4 linked regions of the Homo sapiens genome follow. The protein of the gene in region 2 purifies or fractionates together with the protein of the main gene of each other region. This does not show direct contact. Each region holds a gene or a part of one and is shown on either strand. Other genes may lie near its edges.

Region 1 (3,500 bases), on a different chromosome or scaffold from region 2:
CTCGGAGGTATTTGGAAAAATCAGCAGATGATGATATTACCATCTATTTACATCATTCTTCAGACCTACCTACTAGCCTGGTAACTTTATCCAAAAAGGAAATAAGGTGAGGAGGGTATGGCTGCTTTCATGTTCCCGTGCTGGGGTTTACTACATAAAGTTGTATTGCAATTTTTCACTTACATGTTGACACTAGCTGCTTGGTAACCCTTTTAAACATATCTAGTTCATGTTCATTATAGAAAATTTATAAAGTGTAGATGAGCAAAAATTTTTAAATCCCTAAACCCCATTTCCCAGAGAAGGGAACCACTTTTCACATTCTGTATACATCCTTCTAGGTTTACACAACCATACACAATCTTTTCAGAGGCTGATTAGCCTTTGAAACTCATCTAAGAATTCTGCTAAAGCACAACATCAAATTTAATAGCTAAATCCCCCAAAAACACCTTCTCCAGTTCTTAAAACCAGGAAGTCTGCTCATCAATCATCTCTGGTGCTATCATGCAAGACTACCATGTGCAACTGTACAAGCTGTACAGGGCACAATTGTACCCAATAGTTCTGCATACTGATTTTCAATTGCTTCACAATGTTCTACAATTTGAAAAATCACAACCACAGGTTTTGCCACTATCCAGGCATACAATGTATTTAGGCCTACTTGTCTATAGGAGCTATGTGATTGCTAAATATCTTCACATCTTTCTCAAACACAACTTTGCTAACCTTTGTTTTAAAGCCATTATTCTTGGGTTGGGGGGATGGTGGGATTAGGTTAATGGGAGTGAAAATATGTTGTTTCTTTCTATTATCACTATACTATCTATTCTAAGCACACTATCCCTTCATCCTTTATAATCTGGCTCCAAATAGTTAATTATTTTGTTTTCAACTCTTTCAATTTACTTCAACATTTTGGACAATTTAACATTATTTGGAGTTTGGTCTTCTTGGTACCATTCTCAAAGGTTTCACAGGGACTCACTCTATCACCCAAGTTGGAGTACAGTGGCACAATCATGGCTCACTGCCACCTCAAACTCCTGGGTTCAAGCAATCCTCCCACCTCAACCTCCCAAGTAACTAGGACTACAGGCACATGCCTCCACACCCAGCTAATTTTTTTTTATCATTTGTAGAGATGAGGTCTCACTATATTGCCCGGGGTGGTCTCCAACTCCTGGGCTCAAGCAATCCTCCTGCCTTGGTCTTGAAAGTGCTGGGATTACAGGCGTGAGCCACTGCGCCTGGCTGCCTTTCTTCCATCTTCTATGTTTACTTAAAATCAGGGAAATCCAAGGATAATCACGTGGGGTTCTGCTTGTGCCTCTCCATCACTAGGATTGACAAATTATTCATCAGAATTTCAAACTGCAGAATCCGTCAGCCTTCTTTTATCACATTTTTGTTCAGTCTCTAGCCGTGGACTAACAGACTTAGCTCTTTCAATCTTTCTAACGCTGGGGTACTTATCTATCTTCCTTTTCTGATTTCTACACTTAATATTAGAACATAGCTAATTACAGCATCTCACTCTGTTGCCCAGGCTGGAGTACAGTGACATGATCATGGCTCACTACAGCCTTGACCTTCCAGAATCAAGTGATCCTCCTGCCTCAGCCTCCCTAGTAGCTGAGACTACAAGTATGCACTACCATGCCAGGCTAATTTTTTTTAAAAAAAATTTTAGTAGAGACAGGATCTCACTATGTTGCCCAGGCTGAGAACATAGCCACTTTTAAAGTAATGTAAACTTCACATCATTAACCCAAATCCTCCTAACTGGTTATAAACACATCTCAAACTAATTCCTCTCTAGAACCCTCTGCTCTCTGAAAGGTGAAACAAATGGCAAGACAAGGATGCATTAGGGGCTGCATGGTGGCTCACACCTGTAATCCTAGAACTTTGGGAGGCCAAGATGGGCAGATCGCTTGAGTCCAGGAGTTTGAGACCAGCCTGGACAGCATGGCAAAACTCCATCTCTACTAAATATACAAAAATTAGCCATGGTGGCACACGCCTGTAATCCCAGCTACTTGGCAGGATGAGGCGCGCGAGAACCACTTGAACCTAGGAGGTGGCGGTTGCAGTAAGTGGAGATCATGCCACTGCACTCTAGCCTGGGTTACAGTGCAAGACTCTGTCTTTTTTTAAAAAAAATAAAAAATAAAAAGAATGCATTAGATACTCGCCTTTTCAAACCTCAAAGGCTGCAACATCCCCATCATCTGTGACGGGAAAGCAGCACCCAAACCTTCAACCTATCTGGGTGGTCTATAAGCCTGTGTGGTTGTATCTGACTCAACTCAGGGTTACTGATTTTCAAAACAACAGCAAAAAGAAAAGATCCCCCCAATCTTCTCCTGACCTACAAAATCAGAATCTCTAGACGGTAAGGCCCAGGAATCTGGGTGTGGTTTTTTTGTTGTTGTTGTTGTTTTTGGAAACAGATTCTCACTCTGTCGCCAGTATGGAGTGCAGTGGTGGGATCTCAGCTCACTGCAACCTCCACCTCCTGGGTTCAAGCGATTCTCCTGCCTCAGCCTCCCGAGTAGCTGGGACTACAGGCGCACACCACCATGCCCAGGTAATTTTTGTATTTTTAGTACAGATGGGGTTTCACCATGTTGGCCAGGATGGTCTTGATCTCTTGACCTCATGATCCACCCAACTCGGCCTCCCAAAGTGCTGGGATTACAGGTGTGAGCCACCGTGCCCAGCCAGGAATCTGTATTTTTAAGAAGTGCCACTAGATAATGCTGAAGTATTAGGAACTATTGGTTTATAGCAATGATATCCCTTTTAGTCCTCTTTGATTCCCCCATCAATTGCTCACAACTAGGCTATCATGAGTTTTTACAGAAATAAATCCCTTACTAATACTTATTTCTTCCTCTTTCAAATGCCATCAGTCCAATTAAGCAACATCTCAGTGATATCTATGAGATTTGACCTATTTCCTTTGTCTGATACTTTAAATGCATTTCCTCCTTCTATGAGGCAGCATGTTTTAGTCTTGTGAAAAACACACTGCCTGAAAGTCAGAAAAACTAGGTTGCATCTCAGTTCTGTCAACTGCTAGTTGTGTGACCTTAAGCAGATCAGTTTTCCTTTTAGGATCTCAGTCTTCCATAATATCAGAATGATATTAAATGTCTGAAATAAATTACATCATATAATCTTCACAATAACCTTCTGAGATAGGTACTCTACATACCCTCATTTTACATAGAGGGAACCTCCCAGTCTTGCTGCGAAAGTTTAAAAAACAGCATACGTAAAGAGCTAGGTAAATAAGAAGTTCACTCAAGAAATATCAGTCTTTGTTCTACTCTCCCCCAAATCCTCTCAGCAGATATCAATGGACAAGGCCGATACACAATATTCTTCTTGTTACCTTCTGCAGAAAAAATACTACGCATCTCCTCCAGCAAAAAGCTAACCCCCCCCCCTTTATTTTCTTGGTATAAGTCTCATGGCCCCTTAAATGT
Region 2 (3,500 bases):
TCTGGGATCACAGTGAGCCACCTTGCCCGGCCTTGTTTTGTTTTTAATCTGGGACTGAAAATGAGGGAGTTGAAATACTAGGTTGGTCCTTTTTTACATTAAGTGTTTTATTCGTTTAACATCATTTTAAAAACCTCAGTTAATTGGAGATGTTCATTTTTTCCAAGAAATTGAATTCAGGTGTGCATATTGTGGTTATGTTCATTAATTGGGAGAGGAGGAAGAGGGTGTACAAGCCTGTGCATGATGTGTGCAGGCACATGTGTTTTGAAGTTATTAAAGTGTTTGATATAGTTTAGATTTATTTCTTTTGGACTTTTATATTTTCCCAGCTGATCTCCTTGAGCTGTAAGTTTAAATTACACTGACTTGTTGAATTGCTATGGCAGTAGTCCTATGAATCAAACTCTGGGGATGGGGTCTGGCTGTCTGTTTTAACAAGCCTTCTAGGTGATGGTGATGCAAGCTAAAGTTTGAGAACTGCTGATGTAGTTGAAATTTAATAGCAGTGTTTCTCTATGTGTTACGTGTAGTGATAGATTACTACAGAGGTGGGTTAATGAGGGAAGATAAATTGTTTAAGAAACTAATAATAGGGGACCAGTCACGGTGGCTCACACCTGTAATCCCAGCACTTTGGGGACTGTGCCAGGCAGATCACTTGAGGTCAGGAGTTTGAGACCAGCCTGGCCAATATGGTGAAACACTAGCTGGGCGTGGTGGCCTGTGCCTGTAATCCCAGCTACTTGGGAGACTTGAGGCAGGAGAATTGCTTGAACCTGGGAATTGGAGGTTGCAGTGAGCTGAGATAGTGTCACTGCACTCTAGCCTGGGTGACAGAGGGAGACTCTACTTCAAAAAAAAGGTAATAATGGGAAAATTTCCAGAACCTAGGCAACGTTTACTAGGCTAATCATAGGGTTGGAAGATGTTTGTCATCGTAGATGCTATCCTTCATGCTATGCTATCCTTCAGCTAAGGTGGTCTTTACTCAGTATTTTCTTTTCTTTTCTTTTCTTTTTTGGAGACAGAGTCTTTTCTCTCTTGCCCAGGCTGGGGTGCAGTGGCGCCATCTCGGCTCACTGCAACCTTCGCCTGCTGGGTTCAAGCGATTCTCCTCCTTCAGCCTCCCGAGTAGCTGGGATTACAGGCGCCCACCACTACGCCCGGCTAATTTTGTATTTTTGGTAGAGACGGGGTTTCACCATGTTGGCCAGGCTGATCTCGAACTCCTGACCTCAGGTGATCCACCCGACTTGGCCTCCCAAAGTGCTGGGATTACAGGCATGAGCCACTGCACCCGGCCAGTATTTTCAAATAGACAAACTAAACTAGTGACATCTGACATTCTAGATTGGAGTTCTTGATTTCCCTTCCAGTCCTAGATTTTTTTAATATAGAATGTTGAGTTTTCTAATTTATTAGTATGCTGGAAGAGATATAAAGTCCTGGATAGATATAAAGTCCTGTTTAAAGGAATATGAGAAGACTTATTCTTAAGGAGTTGAGAATCTCTTAGAGTTAAAGCTGTTAGGTTAGTGAGTAATTTAAATAAGTGGATAGTAATAGATACTCATGGAAGAGACCTCTGTAGGTGTTGTCAAAGATGGCTAGGATTTGGGTGGATAAAAAAGAGGAAGTCATTCTAAGGAACTGAATGAGGTGAGAATGAGGAGAGTTTTTGGGTAATGGTGAAATCAGCTAAAGTAGAATGGAGCTTATAAATGCTGGATAATAATGTAGAACCTGGGAGATTAAATACTGTGATGAAAGGTAAGCAGAAGTCATCACATTAGATTCTTTTGGGGTTGACCTGTGGTAACTATGTAGATTGGTTATCTTTTGCCTTATGTTACCCCAAAACTTAGTGGCTTAAAAAAACAAGGATCTGTTATATCATAGTTTCTGTGAGTCACAATTCTGGATGCAGCTTACCTGGGGGCCTCTGGCTTATGGTCTCTTACAAGGCTGCAACCAAGGTGACGGCTTGGTAGCAGTTCTCTCTCTCTCTTTTTTTTTTTTTTTTTTAAAGACAGAGGCTTGCTGTGGTGCCCAGGCTGGAGTGCAATGGCATAATCTCGGCTCATTGCAACCCTCACCTCTTGAGTCCAAGTGATCCTCTTACCTCAGCCTCCTGAGTAGTTGGGACTATAGATGTGCACCACCACACCCCAGCTTATTTTTTTGTTTTTGTGGGTTTTTTGGTAGAGACCAGTATTTTTTTGTTTTGCCATGTTGCCTAGGCTGCTCTTGAACACCTTAATTCAAGGGATCTGCCCGCCTTAGCCTCCTAAAGTGCTGGGATTACAGGCATGAGCCACCGTGTCTGGCCTGGGTAGCAGTCCTCAAGGCTTGACTGGGGAAGCTTCCCCTTCCGAGCTCACTCATTTGGCTGTGACCAGGCCAGATTTTCACTGGCTGGTTGTTGCCCAGAGATATCAGTTCCTTGCCATGTGGGCCTCTCCATAAAGTGGCTGACAACACAGTAGCTTGTTTCCTCCAGAGTGAGGGATCTTAGAGAAAAGGCCCATACGATGGAAGCCACAAAGTTTTTATAACTTAATTTCAGAAGTAACGTCGCATCACTTTGCAATATTCTATTTGTTGTAAGTGAATAACCAAATCCAGCCCATACTCAATCGGAGGGGATTATACAAAGATGTGAAGACCAGGAGGCAGGGGTCTTTGGGGGCTATCTTAGAGGCCGGCTGTTTGTCTCTGTCTCTCTCTGTTAAGAGGTAAATTACAGCTATTGTATAATGCCTTTCTATCCAATCTTTTTGTATGCTATTGGGAGAACATAGTGTTTTGGATTTTTTATTTTGGATTAACCGTAAATTAATTACTTTTGGCTTTGCAAAACATTATACCTGTAAATGATAAACATTCCTAATAACCTTTCAGTGGCTTAAGTTTAAAATAGCTTGTAGTCTCAGAATTGGTAGGAATTTGAGATTCTCCAGTTTACTGATTTTTTTTTTTTTTAACTCTAGCTACGTAATGGAATCACCTGGGGATTTTTTTCATTACTGTTTTTAAAATAGAAAATTGTAGATTCACAGCCGGGCATGGTGGCTCACGCCTGTAATCCCAGCACTTTGGGAGGCCGAGGCAGGCGGATCACCTGAAGTCAGGAGTTCGAGACCAGCCTGGCCAAATGGCGAAACCCCGTCTCTACTAAAAAAATACAAAAATTAGCCGGGCATGGTGGTGGGCGCCTGTAATCCCAGCTACTCGGGAGGCTGAGGCAGGAGAATCACTTGAACCCAGGAGACAGAGGTTGCAGTGAGCCAAGATTATGCCATTGCACTCCAGCCTGGGCAACAAGAGTGAAACTCCATCAAAAAAAAAAAAAAAAAAGAAGAAAAGAAAAGAAAATTGTAGATTCACATGCAGTTACAAGAAATAATGCAAAAATCCCACATATTCTTTTTTCCAAAAAATTTTATTTCCCTAGGTTATTGGGGAAGAGGTGGTATTTGGTTACATAAGTAAATTCT
Region 3 (3,500 bases), on a different chromosome or scaffold from region 2:
CTCGGCTCACTGCAAACTTCGCCTCCCAGATTCACGCCATTCTCCTGTCTCAGCCTCCTGAGTAGCTGGGACTACAGGCGCCCGCTACCACGCCTGGCTAATTTTTTGTATTTTTAGTAAAGACGAGGTTTCACCATGTTGGCCAGGATGGTCTTGATCTCCTGATCTTGTGATCCTCTTGCCTCGGCCTCCCAAAGTCCTGGGATTACAGGCATGAGCCACCGTGCCTGGCCTGAACTACACTCTTAAGATAGAAGTGCTGACACTGTTTTACCCTGCTGAAGACAGCCTCCCCAGCCTTGCCCAGAAGTGAGCAGCACAGGTGGACAGTGCTTCTCTCTCCCTTACCATGTAGTATCCTGGAAGCAGCTTCTGCAGAAATTCCGCCTCTTTATGTTGGACTGTCTTAATAATGAACTCATCGTCGCTGGACACATAGAATAGGGAACCACTAGCTCCAGAGCTACAGAGTTCAATCAGCGGCTCACTGCAGAGGGAATACTGGGGCAAACAGAGAAGAACTAAGAGATTTAGACACATCAGGGCCTTGCCCAACACAAAAATCAACTACAGATGCAATTCTTTTCTAAATAAAAACCAGAGCGAGACTGTGGAGAAAAGGGGCCTTCCTTTGGGAATATCCCTCTGATACTGGAGTCACAGTGTCCTGATATCCAGATGCTTACCAAGTAATCATCGGGCCGGATACCAAATAGCTCCCGGAAGTAGCGGAAGGCAACAGGTGCATAGGTCTTGAAACGAAAGTCATTGTAGTGATGAGCAGGGGTCAGGTTGCTCCCTTCACTGTGGGGTTAAACAGAGGTAGCCATAACTTGCCAGTCCCTATCATCCAGAGAATCTACCTTGCGAAGACACTCAGAGTCACCTCATGGTGGGGGGAGTGGGGGAATACATTCCTCCTAAGATAATCACAGCCCTTCTTAGATGAGTTAGTGAGACAATGGCACAGCATGGACAGCAAGACATAAGAAGAAGAAGAAATCACACTGCCTCCTATCCAATGCATTAGGTTGTTTTTTACGGGTCAATCCATAGGACAGAGGCTAATGGAAGCATCTAGAGGACAGTATCTGCTCTCCGAACTCTCTAGTCCCACATCGCCCTGATTGTAACCAGGTTAAGAAATGGACACATGTCTAAATTGTCCGACCTGAACCCCTAAAACTGCCCTGGGCTGATTTGAAAAGGCCACATTTCCAGGACATGCTCCTGAACATTAAACTCTGTACCTGGGAAAGAAGATACTCTCAACCACGTAGAAATCTTGCATGAGGACATCACGCTCTGGTTTGGTACTCAGGCTCCCCACAGTGTGGGTAATGCCTAACTGGATGGCACCTTTCAAGGCTGATGAGGTTGTCTGAGAAACAAGAGAAATGAGAAGAAAATTCCTAGTATAAGTAGGATCATAACAATAAAAATTCAGAAAGGGGAAGCTAGAAGGAACACTTTAAAACAAACATCCTTTAGTCTGAGCAATAGTTCAGATAAAACTGGGACAATCCAGTTTCCCCATCCCTATGCTGTACTCTGCAATTAAGCTTAGTAAAGATTGGAAGGACAGTGAGGATACAGAGTAGCAAAGCTGGGACTCTCTGAGCCAGCCTCAGCTAGGCAAGGTGCTCCCTCCTGTTGGCCTGCCTAAACAAGAGTTCCATATTTGTATTTGGAAGATACATTGTATTGACACAACGTTCTTAGTTCTCACTCCTAAGGTTTCTGCCCCCAGAGTGTATCTGGAGCCCTCTAAACATTTCCTTCATCTGATATCGAATGTAACTAAAATTAACCAATATTCCTTTTTTTTTTTTTTTTTTTTGAGACTAAGTCTCACTCTGTCACCCAGGCTGGAATGGAGTACAGCAGCATGATCTCGGCTCACTGCAAACTTTGCCTCCCCGGTTCAAGCGATTCTCATGCCTCAGCCTCCCGAGTAGCTGAGATTACAGGCATGCACCACGACACCTTGCTTATTCTTTATATTTTTAGTACAGATGGGGTTTCACTATGTTGGTCAGGCTGGTCTCAAGCTCCTAACCTCAGAACTCCCAAAGCTCTGGGATTACGGGCATGAGCCACCATGCCCAGCCCTAAAATTAACCAATATTCTGATCTGACTGCCTGGCGGCAGAAACTTCAGTCCTCTAAGGAAGGGCCTGACTAGTGTGTCTCAAGGCCAACAGGGTGGGGTGGGCGCGGGCGGAGGCTCACGCCTCTAATCCAAGCACTTTGGGAGACTGAGGTGGGCAGACCACTTTAGGCCAAGAGTTCGAGACCAGCCTGGCCAATGTGGTGAAACCGTCTCTACTAAAAACACAAAAATTAGCTGGATGAGGTGGTGTGCACCTGTAGTCCCAGCTACTCAGAAGGCTGAGACAGGAGAATTGCTTGAAGCTGGGAGGCGGAGGCTGCAGTGAGCCAAGATCACACCACTGCATTCCAGCCTGGGTAACACAGCCAGACTGTCTCAAAAAAAAGGGCAACAGTGTGGTAAAAGAGCTCCTAACTGAAGAAGAAAGCATGAAAGACTCAAATTATTTCTGAGAGCAGTATTCAGACTTAGAATTATCAAACTTGGTCAAAACACAAATACAAGAGCCCCACTCTTACAATCCAGGATTCCAAGCCCGTGGGAAAGTATCGCATCATCTAGATCTTTGCTGTCTGATAACAGTAGCCACTAGGTACACATGGCTATTTAAATTTAAGTTAACTCAAATTTAAAACTTCATTTTCTCAGTCTTACTACTTACAGTTCAAGTGTGGCTACTAGCTACCATATTGGATAGCACAGATACAGCACATTTCAATCACTGCAGAAACTTTGATTAGATAGCTTTGCTCCATTTGCCTCATCCCCAACCTCGGCCAGGCATTACTTATATTTCTACTTGGTCCTCAATGGGCAATAAATTACAACTAGTTTTTTGTTTTTTTTTTCTTGAGACGGAGTCTCGCTCTGTCGCCCAGGCTGGAGTGCAGTGGCGTGATCTTGGCTCACTGCAAGCTCCGCCTCCCTGGTTGACACCATTCTCCTGCCTCAGCCTCCTGAGTAGCTGGGACTACAGGCGCAAGCCACCACACCCGACTAATTTTTTGTATTTTTTTTTTAGTAGAGATGGGGTTTCACCGTGTTAGCCAGGATGATCTCGATCTCCTGACCTCGTTATCCACCTGCCTCGGCCTCCCAAAGTGCTGGGATTACAGGCATGAGCCACCATGCCCAGCCTACAACTAGTTTTTTTCATGTACAAATAGGTCAAAGGAAAATAAATTATTAGTTTCTTTTTTTTTTTAAGTACCTGCCTCCCCAGTTATAATAGAAACTCATCTTTTTATCTTAATGTTCAACATATAAAAAGAGCTAAATGGCCGGGTGCTGTGGCTCATGCCTGTAATCCCAGCACTTTGGGAGGCCGAGACAGGCAGATTACCTGAGGTCAGGAGTTCAAGACCAGCCTGACCAACATGGAGAAACC
Region 4 (3,500 bases), on a different chromosome or scaffold from region 2:
ATTGACCAGAAAATAGAAATTATAATTACTATCTAACATCTGATAATACTCTCACTACATCAGGTTCAAGATGTTGTTCCTATAACTAGTTATGACACTGCTGGATCATTCCTTCTGCTTGGATGTAACAATGGATCAATATATTACATAGGTAAGTGTTCAGTCACTTAAAATGCTCCTGCTTAATGTAATTTTTTAAATGAGAACAAGAAAACATTACCTTTCAGTTTTAAATAGATATGCTATTTATTTTAATGCTGTTTAAAATTTTTATGTTTTAGATATGCAGAAGTTCCCCTTGCGAATGAAAGATAATGATCTTCTTGTAACTGAACTGTATCATGATCCTTCAAATGATGCTATTACTGCTCTGAGTGTTTACCTCACACCCAAAACAAGTTAGTACATGGCCAATTATATACATTCTTGACTTTTTATCTTTTTATTCATTAGTTTATTATGTGACTAGGTCAAATTAAACTGGTTTATTTCTTTTTGAGAACTGCAGTGCCTAAGGATTTCATCTCTACTAAGTCTAAAATTTGTATTCAGTTTTATACTGAAGTCAAACATGACCAGTAAACAAACATAATTTGAGGTGGAAAATTGGAACTCCCCTTACGCTGAATTGCATTTGTTGAGCCATATTATTATAATGTTAGCTGAAATTTCAAAAAAAAAAAAAATTCTGCACATTTGTCTTCCTATTAAAATAACTAATTTTTCACTTAAAAATTAGGAGCTTTTTAAAAAATAAAAAGTTCTTAGACTACTGCTGGAAACTAAGCTTATTTTCTTGGGAATTTAAAAATTTAAGCTGTAGAAAAAAGGCATTTTATAACTTTCAGTGCATTTTAGAGGCCATTGCAATAAAAGTAACAGACTAGTTCTGTAAAGTAGTAAGAATTTTTGTATTCTGGAGTAAAAGATAAGCACAAATGGGAAATTTAAAATTTATCTGTAATGAAAGGAGTTCTAAGAAACAATTTGTATTCAGTAATACTAATAGGTTTGGATGTGCTACTTATATAAGTCATCATTTCATTTAAGTTATTAAAAGAAACCATAATTTTTAGTATGAAAGAAATATTCAAGAGTATACCTATGAATTTGACTGAAACCATAGTAGGACTTAAATTGTATTGCTCTAGAAATAGGGTTTAGTAAACCACGGATTTCTAGCCAAGCTGGCTCTTTTTGATACCACTGTCTTTGGATGTTTTTATGCCACAATGACAGAATTGAGAGGTTGTGACAGAGACAGTGTGGCATGCAGAGTTTAAAATGTTTACTACTTGGCCCCTTACGGAAAGTGTACCAACCCCTGCTCTAGAATGAGCTGTGGATTTTTTTTTTAAATCTAGTTAAAAGGCAGGCATAAAACTGGGAAAGTTTTACAAATCAAAGCACTTCTTTTGTAGTGGCAGGGGGATTTTAAGGCATGAAAAATGGAGTCATCTTTCTGGTTCTAGGAGGTGTTTTTCATGACATGCTTTTTTTCCTTTGATTCAAGTATTTTCAGATGAATCAGTTAGTAAAACTAGAACAGCCAGTAAAGCTAAGATGTTCTCTATCCATGAAGCTTTTAAGAGTATAGGTCACTGAATTTTTTCCTATCTAAATTTGCAATGGGGTCTGGGCACTTTTTGAAAAAAAGAAAACAAAAGACACAGCTGAACCTTAGATGATTAGAAGAAACAACATATTTTAAGTATGATGTAAGCAATGTAATGGGTATGTTTATTCCCTAGCACAGTGTTTTGAAACTTAAATAGTATATTTAATGCTTGATTATTTGAGAATGATTTAGTATTGTAGTTTAAGTAAAGCAGATGGTAATTCTAGGCTAGACATAATAAGGAATATTGCTTTTGGAATACTATGCTGTTTCAGTAGTGTTCTTGGCATGGCAGATTTATGAATTCTTTAAACTATGTTGAGTACCTGCGGTGTCTCAGGCACTCTGTGAGGTGACAGATAAAAAGATGATTATGATTCAGTCTTTGTCAATAAGGAATAGAAGTAGCTAGACATAGAAATAAGTACAGAATTAGTGTGTTATAATTACTGTGATAGAACCTAATAGTGCAAGGCAGGAGGTGAATAGTTACGTCTTGGAGTGAGGGTTAGGAAAAGATTTATCAAGGAAATAATGATTTTAAGATGACCGGAGAAGTCTTAAGATTTTTTTTTTTACTGAACTGGATTTGGGGCTGATATAAACAGTGAATCCAGCTCTGCCTATTTTATCATAGGGAAGCTTTGCGAGGGTAGCTTTTTTATTATCGTTCCATAATGTATCACCTGTCAACTCTTGACTTTATATAGGTGTCAGTGGTAACTGGATCGAGATCGCCTATGGTACGAGCTCTGGAGCAGTACGAGTGATTGTACAACACCCAGAGACAGTTGGGTCAGGTCCTCAGCTTTTTCAGACTTTCACAGTTCACCGAAGTCCCGTAACAAAAATCATGCTATCAGAGAAGCATCTTGTATCAGGTAAAATGATTTCATTATACTGGTAAGGAACTTGGCTCTGTGTGTTATTTTCATTAAAAGAATGAAAACGCAGTGTTTATGTGAGAAAAATATACTAAAAGAAGTACTAGAAAAGTTTAATGACTGAAGAAATTATGATTGTCTTTTAAAGATTTCTTTGAGCTGGTCGTGGTGGCTCATGCCTATAAATCCTAGCAGTTTAGGAGGCCAAGGCAGGTGGATTGGTTTAGCCCAGGAGTTGAAGACTAGCCTGGGCAACATGGTGAAACCCCACCTCTACCAAAAAAGAGGAAAACAAAAAAAAGATGTTTTTTATTTTACCTGGTTTTAATATACTTAAATTTAGGAGATGTGATTTTTTTTTTTTTTTTTGCTCTCTTGGCATATCTTATTGCAAAATATTTATTATGACCCTGCTAAGAGGAATTTTTATTAAATTTTTCAAGTTTTACTTTTAATATAAATTGGGTTGATTATATTATGGTTTAATGCTAAAACTGTAGATTTAAATGTGTATTTTGATATTTTGTCATCTCAAAAATAATAAAAATTACAATTGTAGAGATTATTTGAAGAAAATAAGCTTTTCTTGGGTTTGTAGTTCTTCATAATATAAAATTTTTAATTAAATATTAATTGGATACATAAAAAATTAAATACTAATTTTCAAGTTTAACGAATAGTACTTTCTGATTACAAAGTAAAATTCTATTGAAGAAATTCATTGTGTATGGAAGATGATTTCTAAAAGGCTTTGTGAAAATTGCATTGTGAGTTGGGTGTGTCAGTAAAGCTTGCTTTCTAGAGGAGTCTTACATTAACTCCTTTTGTAGAGCAGTTCTTGCCCAACTTAAAATTTTTACAAACATGGTTTTCATGTGTCAGATTTGTTTTTGTGAAGGCTGGCTAGAAGATAATGCATCTTTTGTGAAAGATGTAGTGAAAGTTTCTCAATCTAATTAAACACCATGTGGAGCTGAAATTCAGTCCATAGCTGAATG

What was found. The genes of interacting proteins can lie anywhere in the genome.
Region 1: the proteins of ARIH1 (region 2) and FBXW11 purify together in Homo sapiens (affinity purification with mass spectrometry; 8 studies listed by BioGRID and IntAct, with this or other methods). This does not show direct contact.
Region 3: the proteins of ARIH1 (region 2) and PIP5K1A purify together in Homo sapiens (affinity purification with mass spectrometry; 3 studies listed by BioGRID and IntAct, with this or other methods). This does not show direct contact.
Region 4: the proteins of ARIH1 (region 2) and KCTD3 purify together in Homo sapiens (affinity purification with mass spectrometry; 3 studies listed by BioGRID and IntAct, with this or other methods). This does not show direct contact.

Annotation. Positions count from the first base shown.
Region 1 is NC_000005.10:171,902,139-171,905,638, forward strand, and holds part of FBXW11 (F-box/WD repeat-containing protein 11), read right to left. Parts: intron 1-3,500.
Region 2 is NC_000015.10:72,480,830-72,484,329, forward strand, and holds part of ARIH1 (E3 ubiquitin-protein ligase ARIH1), read left to right. Parts: intron 1-3,500. UniProt on the Homo sapiens protein: E3 ubiquitin-protein ligase, which catalyzes ubiquitination of target proteins together with ubiquitin-conjugating enzyme E2 UBE2L3.
Region 3 is NC_000001.11:151,229,552-151,233,051, reverse strand, and holds part of PIP5K1A (phosphatidylinositol 4-phosphate 5-kinase type-1 alpha), read right to left. Parts: intron 1,382-3,500; coding exon 1,251-1,381; intron 805-1,250; coding exon 687-804; intron 502-686; coding exon 349-501; intron 1-348. UniProt on the Homo sapiens protein: Catalyzes the phosphorylation of phosphatidylinositol 4-phosphate (PtdIns(4)P/PI4P) to form phosphatidylinositol 4,5-bisphosphate (PtdIns(4,5)P2/PIP2), a lipid second messenger that regulates several cellular processes such as signal transduction, vesicle trafficking, actin cytoskeleton dynamics, cell adhesion, and cell motility.
Region 4 is NC_000001.11:215,601,804-215,605,303, forward strand, and holds part of KCTD3 (BTB/POZ domain-containing protein KCTD3), read left to right. Parts: intron 1-63; coding exon 64-151; intron 152-281; coding exon 282-398; intron 399-2,328; coding exon 2,329-2,499; intron 2,500-3,500. UniProt on the Homo sapiens protein: Accessory subunit of potassium/sodium hyperpolarization-activated cyclic nucleotide-gated channel 3 (HCN3) up-regulating its cell-surface expression and current density without affecting its voltage dependence and kinetics.